7 linked regions of the Homo sapiens genome follow. The protein of the gene in region 7 purifies or fractionates together with the protein of the main gene of each other region. This does not show direct contact. Each region holds a gene or a part of one and is shown on either strand. Other genes may lie near its edges.

Region 1 (3,500 bases), on a different chromosome or scaffold from region 7:
ATAATATACTATAAAACACACCCACAAGACTATTTTAAGTGGCATCCAAAAATTGATATACAAAAGTAAACTGACACTCGTGAACTGTTGAGATATGGCCACTAAAAATGGAAACATCTTGCTTTGTTTATATTTTCCGTTTGTTTTAAAGAGAATGCTTGCTTTGGGATATAATCCGAATACCATTAGGCTCACAGGGCAAATCTTCCTTCTCTTAGGCACTAATGCAAACAATAAATTTTTGCTAAATTTGTTAAAATTTCAGATTACAGTATTTGAACACTGTAGCTACTTTGAAACTATCTTATCTCAAATTTTTCCTTTGAAGTCATGTTTTTTATGGCAGCAGCTTTGGTGTTGAGGAAAGAGCATTGGACTTGGAGTCAGAAGACTTGGGTCTGAGTCCCGACTCTGCCACTTGTTAGCCATGTGGCCATTGGAAGAGTCATTTAGCCTCTCTGGGCCTCCATTTTTTTCAATTGTATAATGGGCATAACTAGCCTTACAGAACTGTTGAGTTGGAGACAACAGATGGAAAAGCACTTTGTAAATTGTAAAGTGCTATGCAAACTTAAGAAATCATTAGATGCTACCGTAACTTCTTTAAGGTGGCAAACAGTTTTCTGTGGGAATACAATTTCCAGAAATATGGCTTACAACTAGTGTTAAATATTTACCTATATTTAAAGACAGGTATAAAACAGACTCTCTTCCTACCTTCGAAGTTCCATTGCTCGTCGCAGCCTTTCAAAACGAACTAAATGTTCTCTCAACCTTTGTTCCTTCATCTTTTCAAAAGGCAAGATCTCTTTCCTTCTGTAGTCTTTATCTCTTTTTTTATCTAGACTAGCTCTCTCCTTTTCCTTACTTCTTCCATGAATCTGTAGAAAAAAATTAGAAGAACACTAGAAATTAAAATATTTTGGGGCTTTATTTTTCAAGTTTAGTAGGTCATTTAAAAAGTTCAAATGACTAGTAACATTTCCTTTTTCTTGGGTTTGCTAGCATGCAAGTACGCAAAGATGGTTATGGAAAAACAGAATTATCTTCTTTTGTAAACAGCTGAAGTAGTATACAACCATCCTGATCAGAGACTTACTTTCTCATATCTTCCTCTTCTTGATGGTCTACAATGATCTCCTTTAGTTTGGTCTAGTATTACCATATGTCCTGGACTCTTGGAACCTAAGGGAAAAAAATTATATAAAACAATGTCTAAAATTTTTCATTGAGAAAGAAAATATGTATGTAAAAATGCTAAATTCTGATAGTCACACACCAATACATGAAATAAAAAAACTACTTATTCTACAAGAACTTCAATGCAAAGAGTTTTTTAAACAGTTCAGTCTGCTAACATAAATACTTTCAGTGATACCAAAAGATCCTAATTCAATAGTACTAATCAATGACCATTTTAAGTCAGCCCAGAATAGCAAAGGAGCTTAGCTGGAAGAATACATTTGTTTGTTTCCCCAGAGTAGAAAAGAAGACAATTACTCCTACTAGACCTCCTTTCCTACCACAATGACACCTAACAACAAAGCTTATATCTGGATTAGAATTTCAGGTTTTCCCTTCCACTGTAAAAATTAAGTAGTAGAATGCATTAGAAAGGGATTGAAAAGATGTATAGCATACTTATTCGCTTCTTTTCTTCACTTTTTTTAATCGATTCTGATGTTTGGCCACTTGCTCCATTATCATTCTTCTCATCTTTACCTTCTATTTTCTTAGTATCCTTGCTTTCTTTTTTTTCAGATTTCTCAGACGATCTTTTCTCTTCTTTTTTGACAGAGGCTTGTGTCCTGACCATACCGCCCCAGACAAAAAAACAGAATGAGTACTTCATAATGTACCAAAAAAGTCTATCTGCTTATCAAAATAAATAAATAAAAATAAATCCTTACTTGCTACTTCTATCACTCGTATTTTTTTTATCTCCAGAACTTCTTGAACTACTCTTTTCATCATTTTCTTTCTTCATTTCTTTCTTAGAGGGATCACCTTTTACCTGAAAGGTTCGAACCAGAAAAACAATTTGTACATATGGTTACATTTTTGTGATTATAAGAAGTGTGCTAATGGCAGAAAATTTGGAAACGATAGGAAAAATATAAGGAGAGTAAAAACTACAAATACATAAAAATTAAAAATCACTGCAAATTCTACTCCCTGCTACTGTTAACAGCTATGAGTTGAGAACTAGCCATCAAATTAGACTTGCTTTGATAAACAGTTAGGGAAGCTTACTTTTTCAACAGAAATCAGCTGTCCATGCAGCTCAGTGCGATGAAGATGTGCAATACACCTGGACACCTCTGTGCTTGAAGACATAGTTACAATGCCATAGCATTTTGCCCCAGGACTTCGAGCATTTGTAACTACTTTTGCACTCAGAACCTATAAAATCAGACTGTACTTTAGAGAGTTTTACAACGTTCCAAGTACACAGACTTCTAAATACATGAAACTTCACAACTGAAACTATATATTAATTCAGGGTGTATCTTATTCTGTCTCATGTTTTTTTTTTTTTTTTTGAGATGGAGTCACACTCTGTCACGCAGGCTGGAGTGCAGTGGTGTGATCTCAGCTCACTGCAACCTCTGCCTTCTGGGTTCAAGCAATTCCCCTCCTTCAGCCTCTCAAGTAGCTGGGATTACAGGCATGCACCACCATGCCCTGCTAAGTTTTGTATTTTTAGTACAGATAGGGTTTTGCCATGTTGGCCAGGCTGGTCTCAAAGGCCTGACCTCAGGTGATCGGCCTACCTCGGCCTCCCACAGTGCTGGGATTACAAGCATGAGCCACTGCAGCCAGCCTATTTCATATTCTTGTGATCACCATCTACGTTACCCATCTTAGTAAATATTCAGGGGAACAATTTAAAGTGCCAAAAAGCAATTTAACCTTTTTATATTTATTTCCTCCCCTCAAATATGTAGCCAAAACACAATCTCATCAATGAAGTAATGGCACAATTAATAAAAGCAAATAAATTGGATTTGAACCAAAATATCCCTATCATAGGCCCACCCTGAATGTCTTTAGAGAAAGTTTCTAGTATTTTATTGATGAGTGTTAACACTTTTCTATAATGAGTAAAGAACCAATCACATATAAAAAAGCGGACTTAAAAATGCATCCCCCGAAAAACACCCTAAAGCTTGAAAGACAACACTTTCAATCTATGTGCTTTTAAAACGTATATGAACATGACAAATAATTGCAATTGTGTAAGATGGTTAGTTAAGAGAGACAAAGCAGGGATGGATGAGTGAGAAGAAAAGAGAGAGAACGATTCGGTGCTGAACAAAGAAGAGTAAAGACATAAAGCTGGGAAGAAGTAAACAGGAAAATCAGGAGTTTTATGGTATGGGTGGCTGGAACAAATCAACTTTTACCTCAACCCTAGGAAAGGCTGATTTGCTCCATAGCCATTTATTTTTTAACTCCACGGGTCTTCTTACCAAATAAATGGTATCCTCATATAGTTT
Region 2 (2,802 bases), on a different chromosome or scaffold from region 7:
AAAAGTGCTTTTTTAAGTGGGAAAGGAACAAGGAAGACGTTAAGCAATGGGATAAAAATAGAGATTAAAAAAGGAAAAACCTCAAGGAGTTCTATTTTTTAACTTTTTTTTTTTTTACAATTTTTCTCCTCCTACCCCCCCACTGAGAAGTTTTTTTTTTTTTTTTTGAGACAGATTCGAGATGGAGTCTCACTCTCTTGCCCAGGCTGGAGTGTAGTGGCGCAATCTTGGCTCACTACAACCTCCACCTCGCGGGTTCAAGCAATTCTCCTGCCTCAGCTACTAGAATAGCTGGGATTACAGGCATGAGCCACCATGCCCAGCTAGTTTTTGTATTTTTGGTAAAGACAGGGTTTCACCATATTGGCCAGGCTGGTCTTGAACTCCTGACCTCAAGTGATCCACCGGCCTTGGCCTCCCAAAGTGCTAGGATTACAGGCATGAGCCACTGCGCCCGGCCCGGAGTTATAGTTTTAAGTAAGCATTGAGCAAAGCTTTAAGTAAAGGCTCAGTGTCCTGACCTGAAAGCTGTAGTTGGTATCATGGTTCATGGCACCCATGTATGCCACAACTTGCAGTGGGTTGTCAAATGTACTTTGAATAAAAGGCTTTGGTTTCTCTGATGTCTTCCAATCAATCACACAGAGCTTGCCCCTAAAGAGAAACCACAGGAAGACTTTGTAGGTAATAGATCACAATGAAAATCTCTACTAGGTTAACAGTTCTCTTATGTATAGTTTGTTACTTGTCAGCCAATGACCATTGCTCTTATTCACCATTTTTTTCCTTTTTTAAAAAAGAGATGGGGTTTCATATGTTGCCCAGGCTAAACGCATACTCCTGGGCTCAAGTGATCCTCCCACCTCAGCCTCCCAAGTAGCTGGGACTATAAGTGCACCCCCCCACTTTTTCTCCCTCTTTTTTTGCATCAAATAACCAGTGGATTCCTCCCCCCATCCCCTATCCTGGTCGGGTTTATACTTGCCAAATGCAAATATCAAAAGGATACAGAGAGTGGACCAGTAACTGGTGACTCTCAAAGGACTCTATCGGTTCAATCTGTCTTTCATGACTTCAATTTCAAAATCAGCAGTTTATAGGGAGATTTTGTACAAAGCATGTATATTACTTACATGTCACTATAGCTCTAGACAGTTACACCTCATGCAAACTCAGTCTAGAGCAGCACTGGCTAAAAGAAGTAAAATGTGAGCCATGTGTCATTTTAAATTTTCTAGTAGCCACATCGGAAAAGAAAAAAAAAATACAGCTGAAATTTTAACATTTTACTTAACCCAACATATCCAAAATATCATTTCAACATGTAATCAACTAACAAATGATTAATGGGATATTTTACGTCTTTTTTTTATTATAGGGATATTTTACATTCTTTTTTGTACAAAGTCATTGAAATGTAGTTTGTATATTGCTATAGCACACCTTAGTTTGGCCTGACCACATTCAAATGCTCAATAGCTATAGGGGTTAGTGGCTACTCTACTGGACAGTTTAGGTTTAGAGATAATTTTATTGTCTTCAGAATTGTTTTGTAATATTGCCAAGTTTGACAATCTGTGTAGTTGAGAAAAGGGCCCCAGTAACTCTAGGATGCCATTCCTGGTTCTTCTTTTTTTTTTTTTTTTTTTAGATGGAGTCTCACTCAGGCTGGAGTGCAGTGGTGTAATCTCGGCTTACCACAACCTCCGCCTCCTGGGTTCAAGCTATTCTTCTGCCTCAGCCCCCTGAGTAGCTGGCATTACATGTGTGCGCCACCTCGCCCAGCTAATTTTTGTATTTTTAGTAGAGATGGGGTTTCGCCCTATTGGCCAGGCTGGTTTCAACTCCTAACCTCAAGTGATCCACCCGCCTTGGCCTCCCAAACTGCTGGGATTACAGGTGTGAGCCACCATGTTATATTTCTGCCACAGAACACTGTTTGCAGCAATGTACTGTAATTGTAGAACTTAATAAATGTAAAAAAAAAAACCTTAATAGCATTCTGAAAACTATAAAATATTGATGAAAGAAACTGAAAATGATACAAATAAATGGTAAGATATCCTCTGTTTATGGACTGGAAGAATATTGTTAAAATGTCCATACTATCCAAAGCAATCTATAGGTTCCACGCAATCTTTATCATAATTCCAATGGCAGGCCAGGTGTGATGGCTCACACCTGTAATCTCCAGCACTTTGGGAGGCCAAGGCAGGTGGACTGCTTGAGCTCAGGAGCCCGAGACCAGCCTGGGCAACATGGTGAAACCCTGTCTCTATAAAAAATACCAAAAAATCAGCCAGGTGTTGTGGCTGGAGCCTGTTGTCCCAGCTACTCAGGAGGCTGAGCCCAGGAGGTGGAGTTTGCAGTGAGCCGAGATTGCACCACTGCACAACAGCGTGGGTAACAAAGCCAGACCCTGTCTCAGGAAAAAAGAAAAAAAAAAAATTCTGCCGGGCACGGTGGCTTACACCTGTAATCCCAGCACTTTGGGAGGCCAAGGTGGGCAGATCACCTGAGGTCAGGAGCTCCAGACCAGCCTGGCCAACATGGTGAAACCTCGTCTCTACTAAAAATACAAAAATTAGCCAGGCGTGGTGATGTGCCCCTGTAATCCCAGCTACTCGGGAGGCTGAGGCAGGAGAATTACTTGAACCTGGGAGGCAGAAGTTGCAGTGAGCTGAGACTGTGCCATTGCACTGCAGCCTGGGCGACAAGGGTGAAACTCTGTCTCAAAAAGAAAAAAAAATTCCAACATCATTTTTCACAGAAATAGAAAAAAAAAAATCCTAAAATTAACAC
Region 3 (3,500 bases), on a different chromosome or scaffold from region 7:
CACTCTGTTGCCCAGGCTGGAGTGCAATGGCGCAGTCTTGGCTCATTGCAACCTCTGCCTCCCGGGTTCAAGCAATTCTCCTGCCTCAGCCTCCCGAGTAGCTGGTGCTACAGGCGTGTGCCACCACACCCAGCTAATTTTTGTATTTTTAGTAGAGATGGGATTTCACCATGTTGGCCAGGCTGGTCTTGAACTCCTGACCTCATGATCCGCCTGCCTCAGCCTCCCAAAGTGGTGGCATTATAGGCGTGAGCCACCATAGCCGGCCGTTTGTTTTTTTGAGATGGAGTCTTGCTTTGTCACCCGGCTGGAGTGCAGTGGCATGATCTCAGCTCACTGCAACTTCTGCCTCCTGAGTTCAAGCAATTCTCCTGCCTCAACCTCCCTAGTAGATGGGATTACAGGCGCATGCCACCCCACCCAGCTAATTTTTGTATTTTTAGTACAGACAGGGTTTCGTCATGTTGGCCAGGCTTGTCTCGAACTCCTGACCTCAGGTGATCTGCCCGCCTCAGCCTCCTAAAGTGCTGGGATTACAGGCATGAGCCACCACACCCGGCCTGAATGGTGGTTTTATGTAAAGGCTGTTTTAAAATAATAGGTAAATTCCCAGTCTATCTTTAAGAGCCTGATATAACAGTTTCAACCTTTCTAGAAAAACCAGAGTGGTCTTGGTTAACATATGAAGTTTCTGGAATGTTAAACACTGCAGTACATATTTTAAAAAGTCAAGATTCAGGGTACACAAGACCTCTCTGTACCATTTTCTTTAACAACTTTCTCTAAATCTGTAACTGTTTCAAAATAAAAATTATTTTTAAAAGTAAAGACTAGGTACTAAGGAAATTTTCCATTTAAGGTTAACTCCAGAACTATAAATTTACCAACACTTAATAAATATTAAAAACAAACAACAACAACAAAAAACCCGTCCTCACTTTTCTCCCTTGATTTTCAATTCACTCAGTGTTCCAAATATGTGAGCACCTATTAGGCAAAAAGCATGTCAACATAAGCTGTTCCTAGAATATAAACATACTACTTATACTACCTCTTCGCTATAACTGCCCCAACAGAGAATATCATTTTTTTTTCTTATTCTTCTTAAACACACCCCTGGCCAGGTGTGGTGGCTCACACCTGTAATCCCAGCACTTTGGGAGGCCAAAGCGGGTGGATCACCTGAGGTCAGGAGTTTGAGACTAGCCTGACCAACATGGTGAAACCCTGTCTCTACTAAAAATACAAAAATGAGCCGGGCGTGGTAGTGGGTGCCTGTAACCTCAGCTACTCGAGGGGCTGAGGCAGGAGAATTGCTTGAACCCAGGAGGCAGATGTTGCAGTGAGACAAGATCGTGCCACTGCACTCCAGCTTGGACGACAGAGCGAGACTCCATCTCAAAAACTAAAATAAGATAAACACACTCTAAAAGTAGTTTCCCTATTCCCACCAAGTACCATTCCTTTTCTATACCCGAGGCAAATGGCTACTTTAGCTATGATAAAGGAGAAGATGTTCTCCTGTCCAGAATAGTCACAAAAATCTATTTAATCCAGAAAATAGCTGAAACAGCATGGTAGAAATGGAAATAATGCAGAATTATTCAGCTATGTCATGAGTTGAATCGATCTTTAAGGACCATCTGGGACTCTGACATTTCTCTTTGAGAAAACGTGCTCTGAGGCCCCCAAACTCAACTTTTCAAATAATTAATTTTCAAAATAAAAGTTGGAGGTTGCCAATATTTCCCACTATTCACTCCTAACACAAAATTGTTGCTTGGTAAGAGATACCTATACCTGGTGCCTAAATTCTTTTCCCTTTTGAGAGCTTTCACTCCAACGTATGTCAGTAAGTCAAAATGAACATTACAGTGGCAAGTTGATATCCAAAAAGCTGATCCAATTATATCATCTATATCCTTTCCCCTAGTAATCAAGAATTCCCTATTGTGTCCTAAGTCTGATAACAGTAGGCCCTGACTGGGCTGAAATGCAGCTGAGACTCTTCTGTAACTTGTTCTCATTTAACTTCTAAGAAACGACCTAAGATGAGATAATTTAGTAGCAACAAATAAAATTACTTTGTACAACTTCAAATGTAACCAGAAAGGCATGAGATAAGAGTAACAGTAACCTTCAAAAAAGTACATCTAATGTTCTCTTGGATGGTACACCTTTCGCAGTAATGATAAGAGCACAATGAATACATTTTTCAGCAGTTTTAGCCTGGGAAGGATACAACAATGGTATCTACTGCAGCAGGGTAAAGCTTAGCTCCAGGAGAAGTTAAGCCTGGACACATGATATTTGCTCCACTGAGTACAAATTTGATGGCTCCTTTATCAACCTGCTGGTGTGGCAGGATAAAAGGATCTGTAAGAAAAGATATACAATATATTAATAATAAGACTAATGACTCAACAGAAAAAGGCAAAGGATCTGAACAGTATTTCCCCAAATTAATCTGACAGATACAAAAGAAAACTCTGAAACACTATCATTTGTTTACCAAATTGGTAATCTTTTTTGTTTGTTTTTTTGAGACAGGGTCTTGCTCTGCCACCCAGGCTGGAGTACAGTGGAGCAATCAATACCTCACAATAACCTTGAACTCTTGGACTCATGCAATCTTCCCGCCTCAGCATCCCAAGTATTCTCCAAAAACCGTAATTTCAAAACTATGGTTTTTGGAGACTACTTAATATGCCCTGGGAAATTTTTGTGATATAATGTTAAGTGAAAAACGCAGAGTAAAAAAACGATTAAAAAGATCAGTGGTTACCTGGGGTTGGGGAAGTGGGGGGAGGAAGGATGAATAGGTGGAGCACAAAGGATGTTAGGCCAGTAAAACCATTCTGTATGATACTTTAACAGTAGATACTTGACATGTATTTGGGAAAAACCATAAAACTGTAGAATACAAAGAGTAAACCCTAATGTAAACTAAGGACTTGCGTTAATAATAATGTATCAATGCTGGTTCAATTGTTACAAATGTATCATTCCAAAACAAGATGTTATTCATAGGGGAATCTGAACTGGGGAGAGGGAACTCTATTCTTTCTGCTTACTTTTTCTGGAAACCTAAAACTGCTCTAAAAAATAAAAGCCTGTTAATTTAAAAAAAAACTACAAGGGGATGAGGAGAAGTTGGTTAAGGGGTATAAAAATACAGGTCGATAAGTTCTAGTATTCGAGAGTACAATAAGGAAATTATATTTAACAATGATTTACTCTATATTTCAAAATAGCTAGAAGAATTGTAATCTTCTCAACACAAAGATAAACGTTTGAGGTGACAGATACCCTAATTACCCTGATTTGATCATTACACGCTGTATAAAGGTATCAAATATCACATGTACCCCTAAAATATGTACAACTATTATAAATATATATAGGTGGTGGGGGATACAGGCACCACAACAGCAGACAATGTACAGCTATGACGTATCAATTTTTAAAAACTATGTAACAGAGAGCCCAATTTTAAAAAA
Region 4 (4,127 bases), on a different chromosome or scaffold from region 7:
AGGTGATGAGCACTCTCATTTACAGATGGGGAAACTGAGACTGGGAGGTAAAGACATGAGTCCAGGATGATACAGCTTGGGCTCTGTGTTTGGCACTGCCTGCCAGGCTGGGGTCCAGCTGGACACCCTCCTAGTGTCTGTGCCCTGTCCCATGCCTCTCACCTCCAGAAGCTGGATGGTCCCGGTCAGGTTAACTCTGTAATAATCCAGAGGCTTCTGCACCGACTCGCCCACGGCCTTGAGCCCCGCAAAGTGGATGACCGCCATAAAGCTGTACTGCAGGGGTGACATGGCCAGAGGTTGCTCTACTGGTTTTAGTCCTTGGCAATGCCCTCAGCCTGCCTGCCTGCACTCACCTTTTTTTTTTTTTTTGACAGTCTCGCTCTGTTGTCCAGGCTGGAGTACAGTGGTGCCATCTCAGCTCACCGCAACCTCCACCTCCCAGGCTCAAGCCATCCTCCCATGCCAGCCTCCCGAGTAGCTGGGACCACAGGTATGGGCTACCATGCCCAGCTAATTTTTGTATTTTTCTGTAGAGATGGGGTTTCACTGTGTTGAGCAGGCTGGTCTTGAACACCTGGGCTCAAGTGATCTCCTCACCTCGGCCTTCCAAAGTGCTGGAATTACAGGCGTGAGCCACCGTGCCCAGCCTGCACCCACCTTTTTGAAGAGACGCTGTAGGGCTCCCTGGTCCAAAATGTCCATCTCCTCAAACTCCACAGAGCGGCCTGTCAGCTCCTGGACCCGCCGCAGGCTCTCAGGCAGGGAGCCCCCTCCTGGTAGGGTACATGTAGGCCACATCATCACGACATGGGGTGCTGTGTTCCCAGGGACTAGCCAGACACACATTCCCCGCCCGGTGGTGGAGGTGGAACCCAGGGTTTTGCTTCTGCCATCCCCTCAAGTAGCCCCAGCCCCACTGCCCCGCTCACCACGGAAGGCATTATGGAAGTTATCGATGACCACAGGCAAGTAGCCAGCCTCCAGCAGCTCCAGCACCGTGTGGCTGCCAATGTAGCCAGCCCCACCTGTTACCAGCACCTTCTCTGCCATGGCACCTGGCCCAGGATACAGAGTCTCAGAGGTGGCTGAGGCTGCCTGCTCAGAGCTTCCTTCCCACTGGAATCCTGCCCCCTAAGCTCGCTTTGGAAGGAGGCGGCAGTGTGCCCTAGGTACCAGACTGGCTCAGAAGTCAGCCCTGGGGCAAGTCTGGGTACCATCACTTTCTGGCCTTAGGCTTTGGAAATTAATTAGCCTCTTGGCCTCAGTTTCTATCTCTGTAAAACAGAGCTAATAATTGTATAAACTTCATGAGGCAGCGTGAGGGTTCAGTGAGGTGATCTTAAGGGCCCGCCACAGCAGAGCTGGGGAGACCTGACACACAGGCACCTTATTTTCTAGTTCCACTTGCCTTGGAGTTGGAAAAGATGGAATCTGAGGATCCACACTTCTTTGTCCAAGGTGACTGAGGACTGGAGAGTCCTGGGCAGAAGGAAAATGGCAGCACGATTGGGACTCCAGGGTCGCAGGAAGGGGTTCTGTCTGCTCAGACCCAGGCTTGTCCAATGCCTCCGCCTTCGCTAGGTGTAAACTGGCTCCTGGGCGCAGTGACTAATACCTCCTGCTCTAGGCGGCCCCCACCCCCTTTCCCTCAAGGGTCAGCTGGGAGGAAGCAGGAAATAGATCACATGGCCTCAAGGGTGAGGTCCTTTGCCAGGCAGGCTGAGGCCAGCTCAGGGGCAACCACACCGTGGTTGGTCCTGGAGGGGGCCCCACCCCAACCCCCGCTCAGCCTCTGCCCATGCCAGGGCCAGCCCGGTCACTCCTGGCTCAGAGTTAGGAATCCCGCCCAACTTAGGCTACTCTGGGTGGGCCGTGTAGACGTGGACTTGGCCAGGTGCGCACCTCCACCCTGAACAAACTCTGCGGGTAGTACGGGGAGGAAGCCCCAGACACTGAGGCCTTTCATTCCCAGCGACCGGGCCCGCTGCCGCCTTCCTCCACGCTGCCTCTATCCCCTTCTGGGCTCACGCAGCTCCAACCCACTTGACCAAGAGCCCTCTGCGTGCCAGGCTCCGTACCAGGCACTTTTGCATGATTTTCCTGAATTCCCCCAGCATCTCGGTGAGACAGGTGTTATCACTGGCACTTTACAGATACAGATACTAGGGCCAGAGAGGTGAAACAGTTGCCCTTCGGTCCCACAGCTGGCGACAGCGGGCTGGAATCTGGATCGCCAGGCTCGCAGCCCGGCCCTCTCCCCAGGCGGCTCGCCCTTCCCCCACCGCTGCCCGCTGGACTCTGCCCGCCGCGCCGAAGCCGCCCCCGCCCCCGCCCCGCGCCTGGCGCGGACCCCGAAAGTGGTCGCAGAGAGGCCCTGGGAAGCACGAAAGCTGGTCTGAGGCCGGCTGCGCCCCCGACAGCGGAGTGACCTTGCTCAGCCGTCGCCCACTCGGTTTTCCCAGTCTGTCTGTTGGAGGGAAGGGGAGCTAGGCCGTGGGCATACGAGGGCGGCTGGGTCTCAGGCTGGGCTTTGGGCTGTAGCGCGGAGCGGGGCCGAGCTAGGAGTCCTCAGGCCGGCAATGAATGAACCCCGGCCGCCCCAGCCCGGGCAGCGGGGAACTGGGACAAAGGGGGCGGGCCTGCCCTGGAGGGACGCTGCCAGGAACACGACCCGCCCCTCGGAAACTCCCTCGCTCCCCGCGGACTCCCCGGCCCCTCGCGAGCCCACCCGGCCCTTCATTCCGTCTCCCGAACCTGCTCGGGTTCCCGCGCCCCACGCTTGCTGCAGAGGCACCGCCTCCTACGCCCGAGCCGCGGGCCCTTTAAGTGCTGACGGCCCACTCCGGCCCCGACCCCGCCCCTCCACGCCCCCAAGGAAACATGTCACTCGGGTTACGGCCACTACGGGGAGGGCGGGAGGACAAAAGGCCTCCGCGCTGTGACGAAGACTGCGCAGCGCGCGCCCGCGGAAGGCGGAAGTGGGCGGTGCCACCCCGCGAGAGGCGCCGCCGGCGCCAGGTCCCAGTAGCGGGTGGGTCCTTGCCGGTGCCCCGGGTCCCCGCGCTAGCTCGTCCCAACCCCTGGAAGAGGGCTGCGCTTCCGAGGGGGCAGGGGGCAGAGGGTAGGGGGCCCACGCCTCCGCCCCACTCTGACCCGCAGGTTTTCAGACTTGCCGGTGTGTGCCAAACCATGAATTCAAAATCTTGAACTACCCGATCCCACGGGACTAAGGCAGGAGGGGGTCGCAGGGGGCCTGGTGCTGGAAGTCCAGTTTGCAAATAAACCAAGGAGCTGGAGGAAGCTGTCAGGCCACACTAGCGGTTCCAGCGCTCTTGGCTCTCAGCCCCCACCTGCCGGGAAGGGTCGGTCTGCACTCTGCCTTCCACGACGGCAGGTTAGAAAATGATTGTTTGTTTACAATGAAAAGTAGTAGAGCTAGAGAATAATATGCACAAAATGTGACATCCTGCGTGATGAAACCAGAGCAAAGGAGCCCTAAATGCAGGAGCGCACAGGTGTCCGCGCAGCCGGGAATCAGCCAGCGCCTGCCCGCAGAGTCCAGGGAACCGACAGGTGAGCGCTCCCGGGCCCGGGAGCGCCAGGGAGAGGCCGGGCCACCGAGGCCCAAAGCAGCAAGTGTGTCCTCAGGGGAGCTTGTGCAATAGCCCCAGTCACAGAGGCAAAGCTCAGAAACAACCCCGTCGGGTGTTCTGGCCAGCAACTGCCGCAAGCAGCCTCCTGAGTAAGCCCAAAACCACTGATTTCCAGTCACTATGGATTTGGGGCTCAGGTGGGGAAACAGGGAGGAAATCCAAAGATTAATAAACTAGTTCATAGTCTCCATTTTCCTCTCAGAGTGCAACATGGTAAAGTATTTTACTCCCCCACGCGCATGTATACACACAGCTGCACAACCGAATGCTGGAATTATGATGTGCCATTCAACCTTTAATTACATAAGCTGTTTTCAAAAATCACATTCAGCGTGGAGATTTTCCAGAGATGCTGGAGTTGGCAGACGGCCACCACGTAGCTCTCCACTTTCCACAAATGGCCTCTGCCAGCTTGGGAAGAACCTCCATGACCTGTGTCCTGAGAAGTCAGAGAGCAAGGGCCCCACGGCC
Region 5 (3,500 bases), about 20 Mb from region 7:
CACACCTATAATCCCAACACTTTGGGAGTCCCAGCTACTCGGGAGGCTGAGGCAGAAGAATAGCTTGAACCCAGGAGGCAGAGGTTGCAGTGAGCCGAGATCGCGCCACTGCACTCCAGCCTGGGCAACAGAGTGAGACTCCCATCTCAAAAAAAAAAAAAAAAAAAAAAGTAAATAATCTATCCTAAATGTCCATGAAAGGTAGTATTTATTGATTTCATTTTTAAAAATAAAATTTCACCATTTACCTTCAAAATCCACATCTCCAACCAACTTGGGTTTGGCAGTTACAGGATCGTGAACTCTATTTATTCCCACATCAATGACTGCTGCTCCTTCCTTGATCATATCTGCTGTGATCAGATTTGGAATACCTGGAAATGGAGAAAGGAAAGATCAACTTAGTACTGAAAACAGTCTACCTGTCAGATTCTTGTCTAACTTCAATTTCAAGAGACCCTGAAGAACTAATCAACATGTTTTATTAAAACCTGTTAAAAATATTAACTAAGGAACTATTTACTTTTATTATTTTTTTATTTTGGCTCCTGACAGGAAACAAAAGGAACCATTTAAACTTTATACAGTAAATATTAATATAAATATTTTGAAGCTTTAGGAATAACATTCACCCATCTAGACTATAATGGACTGCCAGAAACCGGTATTCCAATCACAACTCTATCCTCATCTTTGTAGGCAGCTCAAAGAATCATTACAAGGGGAATGATGAATAGCAGCTAGGCAGGCGAATTCTAAGATGAGGGGTACAACCTCCTCTTCTGAGGTGAAGTCCTTCCCTCCATCCCCCTTGTGTTCTTACCTGCAGCAGATATTACAATATCTGCAAGAATTGTATGTTTCTTCAACTGCTCTTTGGGAGTATATCGATGAGATATTGTAACAGTGGCATCACCTAGAAAGAAAAAAATAGATGTCTTGATTTCTGACACAAAGCTGGGATTGGATTAGGTCTCAACTAGTCAAGTCATTGTAGAAACTCAACATCTCTGAAAAATAATTGACTTACGGCCAGGTGCAGTGGCTCACGCCTGTAATCCCAGCACTTTGGGAGGCCGAGGTGGGCAGATCACCAGGTCAGGAGTTCGAGGCCAACCTGGCCAACATGGTGAAACCCCGTCTCTACTAAAAATACAAAAATTAGCTGGGCGTGGTGGCGCATGCCTGTAATCCCAGCTACTTGGGAGGCTGAGGCATGAGAATCACTTGAACCTGGAAGGTGGAGGTTGCAGTGAGCCAAGATTGTGCCACTGCACTAGCCTGGGCAACAGGGCAAGACTCCATCTCCAGGAAAAAAAAAAAAAAAAACTGACTTAATGGCTTGTGCCATGTTTTCTGAACAGCTAATTGTCATTTACTTTTTTAAAATTAATACCTAATATCATATAGCTTTAACCCATTGGTCCCAGCTCGACTGTTTTGAGTCATATAATTAAATTTATTCATCCTATTTTTAAAGCCTTTCAAGAATTTTACCTTTTCTAAGCAAAATATCACTAAAATTACTCAAGGTTGTTTTAAGTATGTTGAAAGATAGTTGAAAGTATATAGTTTTGCCTTTATTTCTGATATAATCATGTAAGGTCATTATTACAATAATTATGTGATAACTGATTGACGAGGCTTTACCTTAGAACCAATTAACAGAACCTGACAGGACACATTACAGTCATACCAATCCAATCCTTTGCAACGGCTAAAGATTTTTTTCCACTAAATGACACAGTATCTTTGAATAAGAATTGCTCCTTAGCTCCAGCTATCAAAGCTATAGCTGAAATTTTCTAATTGCCTACAACCATGCTTATACTCAAAACTTAAATTTATTTCTGAAGCTAGTTACATGATAAATGAATAATAAAGAAACTCAGGTGACACTGGGTGCAGCTTCTCTACAAAGGTTACTCCCTGAATTGTCTGTTAACAAAATTTCAACAAATACAAAGTATAACAGAGTTAATACTTCCAAACATGCACAGGATGGCTTCTGAAAGTTCTTACATGGGGAAAAAAGGACAGTGTTCCCTGAAAGCAATTTCCTTACCTCCGGGACGTTCATGCGCCCCATCTGTGTGCAGTAACATTGCAATGGGCATTCCAACGTTTTTTGACCTTCCAGCCACAACCACATTCTTCCCTAGGGTTGGAATGCCTATAAAAATATATGTATTGACATTAAAAGTAGTGCCAGTCCAAAGGAAAACAAAGTCAGATGGCCTAGAACATGAACCCAATTTTGCCTCATCAGTCAACTGGAGCTGTAACTTGCTACACATAATAAGGGCTAAAAGAAAACAGGAGAAAGCATACTACAGGCTACAAAATGTTACAGGAATGTGCACTGTCACCACTATCAAATCTTAAATTTCCTTCACTGAGGGCTGGGGCGGTGGCTCACACCTGTAATCCCAGCAGGAGGGAGGATTGCTTGAGGCCAGGGAGGCTAAGGTAGGAGAATTGCTTGAGGCCAGGAGTTTGAGACCAGCCTGGGCAGCATGATGAAACCTCTGACTCTTAAAGAAAAAATTAAAAAGAAAAATAGAGGCCACGCGCGATGGCTCACACCTGTAATCCCAGCACTTTGGGAGGCCAAGGCAGGTGGATCACAAGGTCAGGAGATCAAGACCATCCTGGCTAACACGGTGAAACCCCGTCTGTACTAAAAATACGAGAAAAAAAAAAAGTTAGCCAGGCATGGTGGTGGGCACCTGTAGTCCCAGCTACTCAGGAGGCTGAGGCAGGAGAATGGCATGAACTCAGGAGGTGGAGCTTGCAGTGAGTCGAGATCACGCCACTGCACTCCAGCCTGGGCAACAGAGCAAGACTCCGTCTCAAAAACAAAAAAAAAGAAAAAGAAAAATAGAAAATTTCCTTCACTGAGACTTCTGGATTAAAAAGCAAAAACTGTCATAGGCAACTGTTAAGGGCAGGCACGATGGCTCATGCCTATAATCCCAGCACTCTGGGAGGCTGAGGGGGCGGATCACCTGAGGCCTAGTTCGAGACCAGCTTGGTCAATATGGTGAAACCTGTCTCTACTAGAAATAAAAAAATTAGCTGGGCATGGTGGCACGTGCCTGTAATCCCAGCTACTCAGGAGGCTGAGGCATGAGAATCGCTTGAACTCAGGAGGCAGAGGCTGCAGTGAGCCAAGATCGCGCCACTGCACTCCAGCCTGGGTGACAGAGCAAGACCCTGTCTCAAAAAAAACAAAAAACAAAAAAAAAACTGTTAAGAGAGGTAAACTTTGGGGAGTAAGACTAGAGGATATGCAGTAGGGTTTCCACTCTTTGGGACTGTATGAGTTTTTACCATTTGCCAGTACTACTTTTATAATATTAACACAGACATGCAATTCTGGGATATACCTACCAGTTCGCTTGATTATTTCCCACACACCCCATGGAGTAGCCGGTAACATGGAATACTGATCCAAACACATTCGTCCTACATTAATTACATGAAAGCCATCAACATCC
Region 6 (3,668 bases), on a different chromosome or scaffold from region 7:
CAGAACGTGCACCGGGTTCCCCAAAACTGTCTTCAACCACATGACTCAACAGCTCTATGGGATAGGAACTGTCAGTGTTTTTGCAACTGCAACATTAAACCAAGTGCTGTGGGCTTTTCAAGTATTATTCACAACACTAAAGGAAAGTTTCTTCAAAGGGCTCTCTGGCTAATCTTCAAAGCCGCAGTTAGGCAAAATGACAGTGTGACAGCTTCAAAGCCACTGACTCATGACACAGCCCTGATGTTGTACCGGCTAGGTTCAGATTTCAGAAATCAGGGCACTTGCATCCATTGCCTTTTCCAGGAAAGGGAAGAAAACACTCAGTTGATAAACCTTAGTACTCAGATAATAAATAAGAGACCAAAAGTAGGCTATCACCCAAAGCAAACATCCTTAACTGACCCTAACGTGTATGGATTCAACTTTGATTATTCAACAAAATCATGACCGACTGCTGTGGCCTGGAGTAACCAAAGGACTGTTTTCTCTACACAAAGTCAGGAGCGAATACCAACCTTTATTTGCACTTGGGTTCCAGTTCAAAGCCACCTTAGACAGTGTGGCAAAGTGGGAAAAAGCACAGATCCTGGGACCAAGGTTCAGATTCCATCTCAAGCGAGCATATGAACTGTGTGACAACAGGCAGACAGTACCTCTGTGTCTATGAGAAAGCGGGGAGAGCAACACCCCAGCTTCTAGCAGCTCTACAGCTGCCTGGACCTGCAGGCCCTCCTAGGCCCACTTCCTCCCCAGCACAGTGTGTGTTCCCGGGCGTGTGTGGCTCTGGGTCCAGCTCTGTTCAGGGTGGGACTCCAGGTGAATTACTGAACCTCTGAGGTGTACCCCCAACCCCAAACTTTCACCAAAAGCAATAAAGAGGAACTCTAGAACTGGAGCCAGGACTAAGTGAGAAAAACTGCTTATAAGTGCTTAATAAATACTAGTTATTTACAACTTTTGCTCAAGCCGAGGGCAGAGGCCTTTGTACGCAGCTGCCGAACTCTGACTCTAGTTCTGCGGAAGAAAAGGATGCGGTATTTGCTTTTGCCATGATCCCTTTCCATTTGATTGGCAGGTTAAATAACATGGTTTTTGAAGTCACATACTTAATATTCTTCCTAAAAACCACCCAAACACTAGATGTGTGTGTGCACACACACAGAAACCACGAGGTAGTTTAAATCACCATTAAAAATCAACGCTTTCTCTGATTCTGTGTCACAGAGTGGTGGCCAGTGGCTACACAATAGCGATTTTTAAATGATTGGTTAAGTGAAAACCAGAACTCAAAATATTCCAGGAGAGAAGATAACATTTACAAGTAAACAGTAAGTGCAATTGTATTTTAATTTCTTGGTCTCCGAAAACTCAGCTGTGACTGCTTTCCATTAACAGTTCCAGCTCTATGTGTTTCCTCTAACGCTAAAGGCACAGCCCCCGGGAATCTACTGCTTCCTAAGAGTCTCCATGGAGTCTATTTTACAACCTCCTTTCCCTCCATGCTTCCGCGGAGGAGTCTATACTATCTCTATATACACATTTTAAACATTATTCTTCATTTGAAATTCCTTCAATAAAAACACAGTCACCATTCTTCATCTTCTTGGGAAATGGCCTGCTCTCGAGCCTCTGGAGAAGCCCCTCTAACAGCTCAGCCCAAAAAAGTGCAACAAATTTACATGACACGGGAAAAGCAACATCTATTGTTCTTAGAGTCTGACTCCCTTGGCCCAGCTGGAAAAGTCTCCCCACAGGTGTGCAGTGCAGCTCCGCGGTGCTGGGAAACAGGGCTCTTTCAAGACAGCGCAGGGAAATCTTCCGGGTCATCTGGGTTGGGGGCAACATCTTGCATCTAAAGAAAAAAAGAAATACTTTGAAATCCACTGCCCCTTCATCCATTCCCGATATCCCAGTGGGATAACAAGGGCCTGGCACCAACGCTGAGGGGCCTGCATTAGAGGCAGGACCCACAGTGGGAAGGGGAGAGTCACAGGTCACTGCTAACCCAGGAAAGTACAGCTCCCCCTCCCACACAGGCCTCCAGCCTCCTCGAAAAAGGAGCTGCCTCCCTTCCTACGTCCTGCAAGCTCTTACTGGGGGTTCTGCATGGGCACGTCCTTCATCGAGTAAATAGAATGGTTACTGCGTGCCGGGCACTGGAGGAGCACAGACAGTGCCTATCCTCGGGGAGCTCACGGTGCTGGAGAAACTGACCATCGAATCAGGAGCTTCACTAACACGTCCTGGGAAGGAGGGGCCACAGGAGGGCCATCCAGTGCAATTTGGTGGCACAGTGGACACCAAGGTCAGGCAAGGTTTTGTGGGAAGAGAAGGTTCTCCCTGGGATGAACCTCAATGGATGAGCAAAGGGAACAAGGACTTGGATTGGGAAACAGTGTGACCTGATGGGGGCGGGGGCGGGCCCTAAGGGCGGTTCTGAGGTGGAGGGATGCACAGGTTGTGGAGGTGGGGACAGATGCCAGTGAAGAGGTGGGTGGCACTGGATCTCAGAGTGGTTTCCCAACACACTCCCTGGAGTGCTGCAGGGGACAGAGCTCCGCTATAGGAAAGGAGTGAGGGTGTGTTTCCTATCGCAGAATAGACCCTATTTCCAACCTGGCCCCAAATATACCCCTACACCCCCCGCCCAAAAAATTGTGTTTTTGCTCCTGCTTAAGCAAAAACAAACCATAGACACTGCTTCCAGGGGCTGCTCCCTAGAGCGAGGGAACCGGGCAGCAGGAGGAGCATTGCCAAGACCAGCCACAGAGAAGGGGTCTGTGCCATGGGGCCTCGGGGCTGATTTCCAATGAATAAGTGTCCATACCACATTAGGAAGCACCTACTACATGCCAGGCACTGCGTGGCACTGCGTAAACCGGTAATGAGCAAAAGCAGCCGCTGACCGATAGCCACACCAGTGAGAATACAGCCGCACACGGAGATCAGGCTTCAATGAAAAGAAACTCCTTTGCTCCGAGACCTTGATCGGTCTAGGAGATGTGATCAAAGAAACCTGTGAGGAAGTGAGGCTGGAAGGATGAATGGAGGCCAGCAGGCAGAGGCCAGGGGTAAGGAGCGTGCTGTGTTGAGAGCTAGAATCAGGCAGCCTTGGCTGAGGACGGTGTGAGGCAGGTGAGCCGGGGAGGGGTTGAGGAAGGTCCCCTCACAAAGGGCTTGAGATCTTAGGGAGGATTCTGTCCACTCTGACAGCATCACCTGAGCCCAAGGCACACAATCAGGCCACAGTAAGCAAAACGTCAGGTGCTCCAGTTCAATCCCAAGCCTGGGGATCTTGTCTAATGCGGGTGACAGTGAGTTTCTCTCTGATCCCGGGAGTGCCTTCACAGCAGACCCTGGAAGCCAGGGCTACAGAACGGTCTCTAGGCAAGATGTCCATGATGCTACAACACCGTCCAAATGCCCCAACATCAGTCCCACACTAGCTACAGAAAGAAGTGACTGCAGAAACTCATGACCCTCTGAAATTAGACCATCCTGGGCCCAGGGCACTGTCCTTATTAACTTCTTTCGCCAAACCGTCAATACAGACACCTACCACCACTTCTGCTCTGGGTCCATAGTTCTCTGCCCTCCTGATCCTTCCCCGGCCTCCCCGGGTGCCTCCTCTGGCTCCACGCCCAGGACGAGGGAGGTTACCAAAA
Region 7 (3,500 bases):
ACACAGATACCAATACATTTTAGGGAAAACATAACTATAATTTGTTAACTTTTCACGACTAGAAAGAGTATGAGAAATTCTATGTTGAATCTATAGTTTGGCCAGTGGCTGTGGCCACAGGGTAGAAATTGTATGCCGAAGCTAGCACTAATGGAATTGGAAGACTCTAGGGCTGCTGCAGTTGTAGTTGAACACATAATTCTTTTCATTTCGCCCAATAACAGGGGTTCTGAAAAATTTGCAAGAGTATGAAATCCTTTAAAAATCACTTCTAAATAATCTTTCAATCTGGGTGATGAGTATATGAGTTCATTATATTGGTCTGTGCTCCATGTATGTTTAACATCTTAAATAATTTTTAAAACTCAGTTTTACTTTCAGCAGAGAAGGTTATTTAAAGATCAGAGCAACTTTCAGTACTGTTGCTGGCAATAAAAAAAGTTTAGTGAAGTAAAATTCTATCAAGGACAAAAATTTCTCCCTTAAAAAATATGTATGTGGCTGGGCGCAGTAGCCCACGCCTGTAATCCCAGCACTTTGGGAGGCAGAGGCAGGCAGATCACAAGGTCAAGAGATCGAGACCATCCTGGCCAACATGGTGAAAACCCCGTCTCTACTAAAAATACAAAAAAAAAAAAAATTAGCTGGGCGTGGTGGTGAACGCCTATAGTCCCAGCTACTCAGGAGGGTGAGGCTGGAGAATCACTTGAACCTGGGAGGCAGAGGTTCCAGTGAGCCAAAATCGCGCCACTGCACTCCAGCCTGGGTGACAGAGCAAGACTGTGTCTCAAAAAAAAAAAAAAAAAGTACGTAAGAGTTTATGTACAACGAACATATCTGTGAAATGCTATGTAACAAACTGGTAACAGTGGTGACTGTAGGGAAAGAGAACTGGGTGACTGGAGGACAGAGGTGGGGAGAAGTAGATTCAGTTTTCACTGTATATCTTTTTGTACCATTTGAATTTTGTGCCATATGCTTATATCAACTGTTAAAAAATAAAATTTAACTTTTAAAAATCACACCTTTAAAATTAGAGGAATACATAAGAAAAAATGTTAGTAAATTTACATGTATTAAGCATTCATGAATTCACTTTGATATTCAGACATTGTTATAAACTAATTTTATTAGCAAGCATGACTAATATTCAAATACTTATACATTACATGTTACAAAATGGCAATCTTTTCCCAGTTAGCAGTATAAAAAAAGTTAACTGTTAACATTTTCTTGATTTCTAATTGCAATCAACTGCTCAAAACTCATTTTCTACTTAATCATTACCTTTCTTTTAGAACTTGCTAGAAAACAGAAAACAGTAGTGCAAAGATTTAATAAGCATGACACTGAGAAAATTCTATCTATAATTTATATTTTTTTCCACCAAGTGGGAAAAGATGACCATTTTTTTTATGAATATCATGGTCCAACTCACAGAACATTAGTATGTGCGGACACAGTTTCATAACTTCGTGTATAGACAGAATGAAGCGGCTCTAAATTTAGGCATTAATTAGGTGGTGGTAATGAAGTATCCAAAGCATGCATTTGGTAATAAAATAGACATGTTTTCAAATTCTGGCTTTACCACATTTCCTAGTTGTGTGACTTTGAAATAAATCACTGAACTTCATTGAAATTCTATTTCCTCCTCTCTAAAATGAAGAAAACAATAATTTGCTTTTTGAATTGTGAAAATTAAGGGCAGTGTTTGTGAAGTCTCTAGGATGCTAGGGTCAAATTATGGAGTCTTCAAAGTTAGCAAAGGGCCAGCTCTTTTGTATCTTGACAAAAGGGGAAACCATGGAAGGGAAAAGGAAGCAGGAACCGGAGCTACCAAAAAAAAACTGTGAGAAACCCAAAGGCTTTAGTGAACTGGTACGAAGGGTTGGTGGCAATTTGGACTGGAGGGTAGGAAGGTCAGATGTAGCCAAGAAGAATAAGTTGTGGGAGAGCTTTTAAAATCTGCTCTTGACTTTCCCTCACATTGCCTTGGGAAGATCATGCTTGCCCAGGGCCACAGAAACTGGCAGCAACTGCCTAGCCAGTTGTTGTCAATACAGTAATAGCAGAAGCGCGCAGAAGTCCCTCCAGGATAACGAGCTGATGAAAATGGGTACATGTTGCCCCCTTGGGCATTTCTTCCTCCAACATTCCCCCAGCAACCGTCAATGCTGGTGAATTAAAAACATCAAGATACTGACTTATCTCAGTGATGCCTTTTTTTTTTTTTTTTTAACAGTTTAAGGGTGGTAGGGTGGATTCCTGACTACATGACCAGCCTAGTAGAGTGACAGTAATTAACAATGGTCTAAATAGGTTTTGTGATACCAGAAGCTCTCTGGCCTGAGCCTCATTTTCTTTCCTCAAATTTAGTGGGAGACATACAAACCAGACCCTGGTCTTCAGCCTTTGTCTGCACAGGCCTACTGATTCCCCTAGGGGAATATGATCTACCATAAATTTGACCATAAAAGAAAATTTTAAAACATATACTGTGTGAAGGAGAATTATCAGAACCAATATACCAAGAATTTAAAATAAGCATAACAAATATCCTCAAAGATACAGAACAAAGTATTGTTAATACGAACAAGAACAGGTCATAAAAAGGAATAACAAAAAATGTTAGAAATAAAAAATATAACAGTTGAAACAAAAAAATACATGGTCTAGACAACAAGAATCATGAACTAGAAAATCAGACTGAGAAGCTGTCCCAGAAGGCAGCAGGAAAGGATAAAGAAATAAAGAAAAGCTCAGAGACATGGAAGGTGGAAGTATCAACACCAGAACTAAGAAGAAATAGAGGGAAGGGAAGGAAATATTTGAGAAAATGATGATGATATATATCCAAGAATTAAAGAAAGCTCAAACACCTCAGATTGAAAGAGCTCACAGAATACCAAACAGGTAGCAGGGGCAGGAGAAAAATGAGGCAATGAGACACAAAGGATGCAAAACTTTAAGGAGGCACTTGCATGACCCTGGGAGTGAGTGCCTCCTTAAATTTTACACCCTAGTTGGGTTTCTCACTCTCCTCTCGATCTTGCAGTACAGATAAAGGAAAAACTCGCATCTAAGACATTTAATAGAGAAATTTAACATCATCTGGGACAAAGAAAAATTATAAATGCTTTCAAAGAGGTAAATTATGAAGGAGTAACAACAGGTTAATATCAAATTTCTCAATAGCAACATTGGACACAAGATAATTAATTTTTTTAATATTAAAAGGAAAAGCACTTTAAGCCTAGAGTTTTTATATCCAACCAAATTTTCATTTAACTGTGAAGCCAAAATTTCAAAAACATGGGAAGGAAAGGAAGGCCTCAGATGATTTCCCCCCAAAACAGACCTACTTTGAAAAACTAGAGGAAGAATTCAAGACTAGAAATAAATCAAAGAGGATGTCTGATATATAAGGAAGAAAATAACAAAAATTTTTGTTTCCTGAAAAAGATAAGGATTAAAGAACAGAAAATTCTAAGTATTAT

The links.
Region 1: the proteins of CIMIP6 (region 7) and SLTM purify together in Homo sapiens (affinity purification with mass spectrometry; one large-scale study listed by BioGRID and IntAct). This does not show direct contact.
Region 2: the proteins of CIMIP6 (region 7) and MGME1 purify together in Homo sapiens (affinity purification with mass spectrometry; one large-scale study listed by BioGRID and IntAct). This does not show direct contact.
Region 3: the proteins of CIMIP6 (region 7) and MCTS1 purify together in Homo sapiens (affinity purification with mass spectrometry; one large-scale study listed by BioGRID and IntAct). This does not show direct contact.
Region 4: the proteins of CIMIP6 (region 7) and GALE purify together in Homo sapiens (affinity purification with mass spectrometry; one large-scale study listed by BioGRID and IntAct). This does not show direct contact.
Region 5: the proteins of CIMIP6 (region 7) and MTHFD2 purify together in Homo sapiens (affinity purification with mass spectrometry; one large-scale study listed by BioGRID and IntAct). This does not show direct contact.
Region 6: the proteins of CIMIP6 (region 7) and HABP4 purify together in Homo sapiens (affinity purification with mass spectrometry; one large-scale study listed by BioGRID and IntAct). This does not show direct contact.

What each region holds. Positions count from the first base shown.
Region 1 is NC_000015.10:58,892,180-58,895,679, forward strand, and holds part of SLTM (SAFB-like transcription modulator), read right to left. Parts: intron 2,404-3,500; coding exon 2,254-2,403; intron 2,015-2,253; coding exon 1,911-2,014; intron 1,809-1,910; coding exon 1,642-1,808; intron 1,186-1,641; coding exon 1,100-1,185; intron 882-1,099; coding exon 718-881; intron 1-717. UniProt on the Homo sapiens protein: When overexpressed, acts as a general inhibitor of transcription that eventually leads to apoptosis.
Region 2 is NC_000020.11:17,986,018-17,988,819, reverse strand, and holds part of MGME1 (mitochondrial genome maintenance exonuclease 1 isoform 2 precursor), read right to left. Parts: intron 655-2,802; coding exon 522-654; intron 1-521. UniProt on the Homo sapiens protein: Metal-dependent single-stranded DNA (ssDNA) exonuclease involved in mitochondrial genome maintenance. Has preference for 5'-3' exonuclease activity but is also capable of endonuclease activity on linear substrates.
Region 3 is NC_000023.11:120,607,101-120,610,600, reverse strand, and holds part of MCTS1 (malignant T-cell-amplified sequence 1), read right to left. Parts: intron 2,377-3,500; coding exon 2,243-2,376; intron 1-2,242. UniProt on the Homo sapiens protein: Translation regulator forming a complex with DENR to promote translation reinitiation.
Region 4 is NC_000001.11:23,797,955-23,802,081, forward strand, and holds the start of GALE (UDP-glucose 4-epimerase), read right to left. Parts: upstream 2,801-4,127; 5' UTR 2,758-2,800; intron 2,625-2,757; exon of another isoform or gene 2,433-2,624; intron 1,594-2,432; exon of another isoform or gene 1,483-1,593; 5' UTR 1,412-1,482; intron 1,059-1,411; 5' UTR 1,054-1,058; coding exon 933-1,053; intron 777-932; coding exon 661-776; intron 277-660; coding exon 163-276; intron 1-162. UniProt on the Homo sapiens protein: Catalyzes two distinct but analogous reactions: the reversible epimerization of UDP-glucose to UDP-galactose and the reversible epimerization of UDP-N-acetylglucosamine to UDP-N-acetylgalactosamine.
Region 5 is NC_000002.12:74,208,615-74,212,114, reverse strand, and holds part of MTHFD2 (bifunctional methylenetetrahydrofolate dehydrogenase/cyclohydrolase, mitochondrial isoform A precursor), read right to left. Parts: coding exon 3,394-3,500; intron 2,174-3,393; coding exon 2,066-2,173; intron 917-2,065; coding exon 824-916; intron 375-823; coding exon 249-374; intron 1-248. UniProt on the Homo sapiens protein: Although its dehydrogenase activity is NAD-specific, it can also utilize NADP at a reduced efficiency.
Region 6 is NC_000009.12:96,488,169-96,491,836, reverse strand, and holds the end of HABP4 (intracellular hyaluronan-binding protein 4), read right to left. Parts: coding exon 3,563-3,668; intron 1,856-3,562; coding exon 1,799-1,855; 3' UTR 501-1,798; downstream 1-500. UniProt on the Homo sapiens protein: Ribosome-binding protein that promotes ribosome hibernation, a process during which ribosomes are stabilized in an inactive state and preserved from proteasomal degradation.
Region 7 is NC_000002.12:54,354,884-54,358,383, reverse strand, and holds part of CIMIP6 (ciliary microtubule inner protein 6), read right to left. Parts: intron 1-3,500.